Linked DNA regions of Homo sapiens. The protein of the gene in region 1 interacts with the protein of each later gene in a pairwise test. Each region holds a gene or a part of one and is shown on either strand. Other genes may lie near its edges.

Region 1 (4,790 bases):
TAATTTGTTTTCTTTTTTTTTTCTTTTTTTTTTTTTTGAGACAGAGTCTTGCTCTGTCACCCAGACTGGAGTGCAGTAGCGTGATCTCAGCTCACAGCAATCTGCGCCTCCAGGGTTCAAGCGATTCTTGTGCCTCCCGAGTAGCTGGGACAACAGGTGCCTGTCACCATGCCCAGCTAATTATTGTATTTTTTGCAGAGACAGGGTTTTATCATGTTGGCTAGGCCTCCCAAAGTGCCAGGATTACAGGCGTAAACCACCATGCCCAGCCTGGTAATTTGTTTTCAAAAAGAGAAACCAGCTGAGCCTGAGGTCTGGCCTGCAGGCTGAGCCCGAGTCTAGACTGTCACTGTACCTGATGCCCTCATACCAGTGGTCCCCATCCAGGCCATCAGCTTCATACTAGGAAGCAGGGGATCCAGGGTCCTGGAGTTGAAGGGTACAGAATGTTCACAAAAAGGAGACAAAGTGGCCCACGGTGGGGTGGTCCCAGAACTTTGGGAGGCCAAGTGGGGGCAGATTGCTTGAGGTCAGGAGTTCAAGACCAGTCTGGCCAACACGGTGAAACCCTGTCTCTACTAAAAATACATAAAAATTAGCCAGGCATGGAGGCATGCACCTCAAGACTAGTCTTGTGTAAACCTGTCTCATTGCTGGGGAGGCAGCAGAGTGGCTCTGCCCTCTACAGGGGCTGGACTGAGTGTTCTTCAGGGCCTTTCCTGGCTCCAGGGGACACTGCTAAGCTGCCCTTGGCTTATTCCACGCATTGAGCACCTCCACATCCCCAACTAGAGCTGCCCTGGATGGGAAACTGCTTGTTCAGCCTGATGGAATTTTCTAAGCCCTGTGACACAGGGAATCAAAAAGAGCCTCAGCCGGGTGCGGTGGCTCATGCCTATAATCCCAGCACTTTGGGAGGTCTAGGGGGGTGGATAATTTGAGGTCAGGAGTTCAAGACCAGCCCGGCCAACATGGTAAAACACCATCATTACTAAAAATACATAAATTAGCAGGGTGTGGTGGCGAACCCCTGTAATCCTAGCTACTTGGGAGGCTGAGGCAGGGGAATTGCTTGAACCAGGGAGGTGGAGGTTGCAGTGAGCTGAGATCGCACCGCTGCATTCCAGCCTGAGGGACAGAGTGAGACTCTGTCTCCAAAAAAAAAAAAAAAAAAAAGACAAAGCTCAACTGGTGGTGGCGAACTTGGGCAAAATCACAGCATCAGAAAACCTCGGGACTGAAAAGGCCCTCAGAGGTGGTGTGACCCACAGTAAATTACTTGGTATCAGAAGACCTGGCTTTCGCCCTCTGCTGAGAGGCCTCAGGCAAACTATCAGCCTCTCTGAGCTGGTTTCCTTAGCTGAAAAAAAGGATAATAGTTTATGCCTCTAGAGCTTTGGCAGCCTCAGTGAATTCTATTTGGCTCTCAAGGCCCTGTGTGATTGGACCACTCCAGCCTCCCTGCCTCCTCCCTGTTCCTCCAAGCATCCAGCTAAGCTTCCAAGCACCGACACTTGTCTTTCCCTCAGGGATCGGCAGGCCACATCCCCTCCCAGTTCCTCCATCTCTGCTCAGATGTCTAGCTCCCCTACTGGAGTGAGACTGCCATGGGGGACTGAATTATAAATCTAGCCTCCTCATTTTACGGATGGGCCAGGGGGAGGCGGGTAAGTGGTGCTCTGCTCACCAGAGGGGCAGGATTTTGCCCATGTTAAAAGCCAGTAGGCAGCAGAGGCCACCTGGACACTTTCCCTCAGGCAGCTGCCCTCACTGTCCAGCAGGGAACAAAGTGACTTGCCTGCTGTGGCTTAGCTCTCCCTGGTTGGAAGTCCTGCTGCCCTACAGGAGGTAAGCCCCAGCCTGGAGAAGCCACACTCCTAGGGAACATATTCCTGAGAGTCCAAGAGGGTCAGCAAGGCTAAGCCCCAGAGACCCTTCCTTCCCGGCCTGGATTCTCAGAAGCTCCTGGCCCTGCTGGTGGGAGAAGAGAAAGCAAGTGGCCCCAACACCCTCTTTATGCCCTACTTCTGGCACACCCTTCTGAAACGTTCTGACCTCATCTGGGCTGAGGACTGAGACCAAGGGTCTGACCATCCTTGGCTGGGGAGGGGTTGGGGGGCTACTGGGGTGTTGAAAGAGGGTGCAGTGGGGGCAGCAGCACCTCCAGCATTCCAGCCTGGAGGGGGCTGGGATGGGTGGGATGGGAGGTCAGACAGAGGCAGGCCCAGCCCCTCCACATTGGAGACCCTTCCTCCCTGGGAGTCAGCCATCCCAGAAATGGCTTCTGGCTCTGGCATCCTCCAGCTCGCCCCAGCCCCACAGGATGCTGATGCTGCTCATCTGAATACTGCACCTTGAGAACCACTGTGTTCGAGCGATAGACTTTTCAGTTAAGGATAGCATTTCCCAGCTTCCCTCTGCACCTGGCTATGCCCAACTGTCTGGCTGATGGGATGAGAGCAGAAGTGACATATGCAACCGTAAAAGGTAAGGAGAAGTTTGTCTCCTTCCCTTCTCCCCTTCCTGCTGCTGATGGGAAAGCTCAGGCAGTCATTGTAGACCAGAAGATGGAAGCTGCATGTTGAGAACAGTGGAGCCACAAAACAGAGGGAGCTTGGGTCCCCAAACCTCTGGTGAGGCTACTTCCTGCTTATATCAACTTGACCATTGCAGGAGGCACAAAGGGACTCCTCCCCTGCTTCAGCCACTGTTGCTTGGGCTTCCCCAGCAGACCAGCTGTGCCCCATGACCACTTTGAATGAAGTCAGCTTAGGATAGAGGGTTGAGGGCTAGGGTGGCTGGGGGCATTCAGCACTGCCACCTCATGCTGAGGGCTTACAGGTGGCCAGGCCAGGGCCACACGAGGCAATGGAGCTCTGGGGCTCCTGCTTCTGACTGAGAGGCCTGGGGAAAAGAACACCCCACAGTGGAGGCAGGCAGAGCTCCACCCTGATGGAAGCTCTGCTTCCCACATGCTCACTGATGGGCTGAACAGTGCAGCTGCCTGGCTCCTCTGTTAGCAGCAACACTGCCTCCACCCCCTGCACTGAGACTACTGCCCTGGCCCCTACCTGTTTTGGTCCTGGGAGCTGCTCTCTGGGAGGCTGATGCCTTCCCTGGCTCCAGGCGTATCTTCTCCAGATGTTGCTCCAGCACCACGGTGCGGTGTCGCTCCTCCTGCAGCTTCCTCTCTGACTCCAGGAGCTTGCTGTTGCTCTCCTCCACCCTGGTGATTAGAGAGGAGGGGATGCTACATGCCCTGGCAGGCAGGGGCAGGCCCTACCCCACTTGCTCAGGCCCTTAGAGAGATGGGCACATCTTACATTGGTAGTGATGGGACCTCTTCATTTTCATTGCAGTAACACAGGAACATGCATTTAAACACCATATGGTTCTCTCCAAGGTTAAAATTTAAAAATTATCAGCCCACTCCCAGCCCCATCATTCCCAATTCCTGCTCTCTAAAAGCAATCACTTATAACACTTCTAGCTGTTTCTTTTAATATTTACTGCCATATTTCTACAGATGCTTATGTTGCTATTTTTAGGTTTATATAAGGTTTAAATATAATCTTTTGACTTCCTGTCATGCAAAATAAGAATTTAGTTTTATTTTAGTACTCTCCTCCTACGAAACAGAATCACCTGTATACGTTTTTGGATGAATTGATATTAGGTATCAGTTTTCTATCACAGCTATAACAAATTACCATAAATTTAGCAGCTTAAAACAACACAAATCTATTATCTCACAGTTCTGTAAGTCAGAGGCCTGGCAAGCTCAGTGGGTTTCTCTGCTTCTGGTTTCACAAGCCGAAATCAAGGGGTTGGCTGACCTGGGCTCTTATCTGGAGGTTCCGGGGGAAAATCCACTTTCAGGCCCATTCAGAGTGTTGACAGAATCCAGTTCCAGGTAGTTGAAGGACTGAGGTCCCTGTTCCCTGCAGGCTGCTGGTCAATTTCACCTTCTAGGAGCCACCTTGCCCCCTCCATCTTTAAAGCCAGCTAGATACCCTTAACACACTTTGAATCTCACTACCCTCTCTGACTTCCTCCACAGCAACTCTCTGAATAATCCCAGACGGAGATATTTCTCTGCTTTTAAGGGCTCAAAAGATTACATTGAGCCCACCAGATAATCCAGGATAATCTTTCCATTTTAGGGTCCATAACAATAATCATATCTGCAAAATCTCTTTTTCATGTAACATAAAGCACTCACAGGCATAACAGCAGGGAGCAAAGGGCATAGACACCAAAAGCCTGTCTACGTTAGGACAATTAGTTAGAGCCATGACGCACAGTGTCATATGTCCTTTCTCATTTAATTGTTCGCTTTTCTTGGAGTTAGTGATTATCTTAAGCTTATTGTTTTGTTTTCTACATGCCTGTCATAAATGTTATTTCACATGAAGCACTTGTTTAATCCCACTGGAGCTTGAGCTTAGGTCCTTCCTGTGGCTAGGTGTGCCATTTCAGACTTCTATGATACTAAAGGTTCATTTAGTGAGAAAGCCAGAACTCCCTGAGATCTAACCCAAGCCAAGAGTTACATGCACACCTGAAAATTAGAGGGGCAGCCTTGAAACTGACAGTGTTGGAGGAAGTGATCTTTCCACCTTGGTGAAGGGTCAAAAGGAACAGAATGACAACAATTTTGAACAGTATACAACTACTAATAAAAAGCTGTATAGTAACACAGTAAACAGCTACTAACACATATTTAAGCATATTCCTTGAGATTTTATTTGCAAAAGCAAAAACCCAAAACAACCTAAAGGCCCATCATC
Region 2 (4,098 bases), on another chromosome or scaffold:
TCCATTGGGGTGTTATTTTAAAAGATCATGAGCCAAAATATTTCTTGTAGTAAAAAATTTTATTTATGGTGGAATTTCCAAAATTTCTTATATCTTGAAATGATCCACAAAGTACTATTTTGTGCTTACATTTAAAAGATACATTTCTTACAAGAAAAGATCAAAATATATACATTAGGCAGTATTATATTTTTATTTAATACAATATAACTAAAGGATTAAAGAGAAAAGAAATAGTTAAATATATTTAAAATTCCATTTAACTGATTCTCAGCTGTTTTAATGTTTTAAAGAAAAAAATAAAGCTCTAAACACCAGAGACATTTTGATGAGCAATATTTATAATATATATATATGTATATATAAGTTAAGCATTGCAACAAGCTACCCTCAATCAATGGCCCCCTATCAGAAATAGTATTACTGGAACTATGTATTAATATCTAAGCAAAGAATAATAAAGAAGAAGAAAGTATTATTTGCAATGATGACTTTTTAGTTAAATACACTTTCTTATAAAGTGGCAAGGTAATCTTTACAAATTTACAACTGAAAAGAAATCTTTATGTACATGTTGTCTTGGTTTGGGACTTTTTGAAGCCTTCTTCTTCCTGTGTATTAGGCCCTCCTGGAAGAAGTCATATAGACCAGAAAATTAGTTCATAGCACATGATAGATAAGCCTGGAACTAGAAGCCCCTGGAGTTGCAGGCTGTGAATCGGTGCTGGCAACTGGAGAGAGAGAAGCCAGATCCTGGAGAGGCAACCCAGGTTGCTCTGAGGAGGTGATCCGGTCCACTATGTTGGATAAGCAATCCAAGCTGGATAAGGAGTTTTTATCTGTGGCATATACTAAGGATACAAGGAGAAAAGCATTAAAAAATAATTAGCCCAAGATAGACAGATTTGCTTATGTTGCTCCTTAAATTGTAGGTCAGCTCCTCTGACACCCAGAGGTCAGGTGGTCACAGAAAGCCTAACATAGAAATTTGCAACAAATATCTGGCAATTCCTGAGGGGTAGACGTGGGGAGTGGGGAAGCCCCCTGATAATATTTCAAGCAACATTGTGTGTGCATGTGTGTATGCATGTGTGCGTGCGTGTCTGCTAGGGGGATTTGGAGCAGAAGATGTGTTTATTTTGCTTTACCAAAGCCTCCCTATAAGAACCATCACTTCCATTCTCCCTTCCCCAATACTATCAGCAAGAACAGAATCTTATAGGCTGAATTGTTAGGTTGAACTGGTCTTTAAACTCCTGTGAAGTTATCAATTCTTACCATTTGATACATCAGGACAGTAGATGCTGTCAAAAGTACTGCTCTTTCTGGACCAGACAGGACTGTTACATTCGGGCTATAATACAAGACACACAACAAAGTTTGTTTTCAGGTCTTGGCAAAAGATGTTCTGACCAAAGGTGAGGCTGTGCTTGCCCACCAGCTCTGTAACCGAACACTGTCAATCACCTTCACTGCCTTGATTTAGGAAGGGCTAGCCCTCTCCAAATTCCCAGGGCACTGAGGTCAATCTCTGTGCTTGAAGAAGAGGAGAGCAGCAGCAAAGGGAAGAGGGGGTGGAATTCAGCAGCAATGTGCATTGGGTTAACCATGCAAAATGGATTGGAGTAGAAGAAAGCCACACTAATTCAGGGAAAGAACACTTTCCCAGGGCAAAAACACATTAAAACCTGGCAGCCTTGGAGCAAACGCCCTCTAAAAAGAATGCATCAACATCTTTCAGCCAGGCCTCATTGGAGCAGGAACTGGGGCCGTGTGGGTATTTCTTTCCATTTCCTCATTAAGTTAGAAACGGTGCCTTTAGATATTAGCGTAGGGCATGATCCACAGATGGCATATTTTGAAAATAAATTCAGGAATGGAGAAAACATCTGAGTGATCATTCACAGCCACCCATCTTCCATGTCAACACTCGATTACAGTGTACACCTAGAACCTGCTAGAAAGTTAAACTAAAATCTTGTTCAGCAGCGGTTTGGGGAGTCTTTCTAAATGTGGACCCCTCTCTTCTTTTAAAGCAACTCAGCATCTGCCTCCACCCCACTCTCCCCACCACACCAGGTTAAATGAGGTGTAAGGACTTTAGAAAAGATTAGGGTAGCCTAGCAGGTACCAGATCTATTGCTTACCATGCCATCAGAGCAGTTGGAGGTGGGGCTGGTGGGCTCCGAGCAGCTCTGTCCCGGCAGGCTATAGTAGTTCTCCACCTGCTCTCTCAGCAACTCCTGCAGGCTCTCGATGTAGCGGATGGCATTCCTGAGGATCTCCACCTTGGGCAGCCTCTGGTTGGGGTTGGTCGTGGTACACCTCTTGAGGGTTTCGAAAGCCTGGTTGACCTTCTTCAGGCGCCTCCGCTCGCGCATAGTGGCTGCCTTCCGCCGATCCATGGTGGTGGACTTCCTCTTGCAGGCTTTGCAGGCCCACATGAGGCAGTGACCAGCCTGGTGGTGGCCGGTAGGCGCTCGCACGTGCTCGTCCTCATCTGAGCCCTGCAGCTCTGCTTTGTGCGCTCCGAAGGCAGCCACTCGCGGCACAAACTCGTCCCCAAATTCACCCTCGGGGGACGGTATGCAGGAGCCGTCGTAGAAGTACTCAGAAGGTGAGAACTGGCAGCCATCCATCACGTCCATCCTGCTGAGAGGCAGGCGGTGCACCTGGACGGCAGCGAGAGGGATGGGGAGAAACGGGAGCCTGGCGCCTCCGCCGATGGGCAAATCCCGGGCGGAGCTCCCTAGTCTGTCGCTCCGGTAATTAACAAGGGCAGACGCCTGTTGGCCTGGGTAGACAAGCTGGGGTTGGGGTTCTTTATATATTCTTTCGGGAGGGAGGCCGGCCCCAGTGGCCAGGCACTATTAGCATATCCCACCGCAACCCCCGCGGGGGCTGTCTGGACAAACCTCCGCCTTTCCTCTACAGACAATCTGCTGTGTACTGCCCCTTTTGACGCTAATGGTTTTACTGTATTTCTGCTGGGGCGGCAGTGGGTCCCCAACCTGCTCATTTGCACTCTCTAGATAGGCTAAAACAAGGGATCACTTAAGGAGTGTTTCACACAAAAGTGACCAAGGCAGTCCAACTTTTTGCAATTGGACACACATTTTAAAATAGTGGTAATAAATAGAAATCCCTTTCAGCTGGCACCAAGAGCCGACCTGCCCTCCCAATCCTGGGCGTGAGGAATCACCTGATTTGGGGGTGTTTGTTTCTCTTTTTCATGAACTTCAATTATCTCGAAAACTTTTTCCAGCAATTGGATTGAATAACGGTTACTAAAAACTTGAAGTGGCATTTTCAATCTTGGAGTGAATACAGGGTTTGCCTTTCCAAATCTATTTTGTATAGCTTCAGATGAGTAAAGTTTTGCTCAGATTGTCATTTATTCTAGGCTCTACCTTATTGAGAGTAGGGAGGGAGGTTCCTTTTCCCATGACTGGGCTTGCTCTGAGTTCTCCCTGTATGTCTGCTCATCTAAAAGGAGGTGGGGCACAGGAGGGCCAGGTGACCAGGAACATTCCTCCCGTTCTTGCTTCCTTCATTTTCCCCTTCTGTACGTATTTGTTGAGCACCTTCTCCTTTGTGCCAGGCCTTCCCTAGATCCTGAGCAGGCCAAAGACCTGCACTGAAAGTGTCTCTAAGATTTCCAACAGAAGAAGCCCAGTTTTCGACGGCAAACTCCCTTTCCAGGGGTGAGTCTCCTTTCTCCCTCTCTTTCTGCTCCGCCCTGTCATTTCTACAGACTAAACAGCCAAGCTGGGCTTTGGGGTTGCTAATTTTCTGCTTTCAGGCAAACTAACACCGTTACAGATGCGTCCCAGCTGCCGCCACTGCAATCCTTGACTCGTGTAAAATTTCCAACTCCTCAAACCAGGAGTAACTTCACACACTTCAGTGACAAAAGCCTTCCAGAAAAGCAATCACAGCAGGGTCTTTAGAACTTCGATGGATAGAAGGCAAGAGGGGAGGGTTGTCATTTAAGTGGGAATGAATCTATTAATCAGCTTTTACCAATCCTCCTCCAACCTTAATCCACTTTCAGGTTATTTGGGTTGGGGAGGTGCTGTTTATATTTAGGAAAAGCAA

The links. The genes of interacting proteins can lie anywhere in the genome.
Region 2: the proteins of CCDC13 (region 1) and MYF5 interact in binary tests that used the Homo sapiens proteins (3 or more experiments, as listed by UniProt).

What each region holds. Positions count from the first base shown.
Region 1 is NC_000003.12:42,710,091-42,714,880, forward strand, and holds part of CCDC13 (coiled-coil domain-containing protein 13), read right to left. Parts: intron 3,227-4,790; coding exon 3,072-3,226; intron 1-3,071. UniProt on the Homo sapiens protein: Required for primary cilia formation and promotes the localization of the ciliopathy protein BBS4 to both centriolar satellites and cilia.
Region 2 is NC_000012.12:80,715,614-80,719,711, reverse strand, and holds MYF5 (myogenic factor 5), read right to left. Parts: upstream 2,801-4,098; 5' UTR 2,649-2,800; coding exon 2,148-2,648; intron 1,355-2,147; coding exon 1,279-1,354; intron 852-1,278; coding exon 661-851; 3' UTR 41-660; downstream 1-40.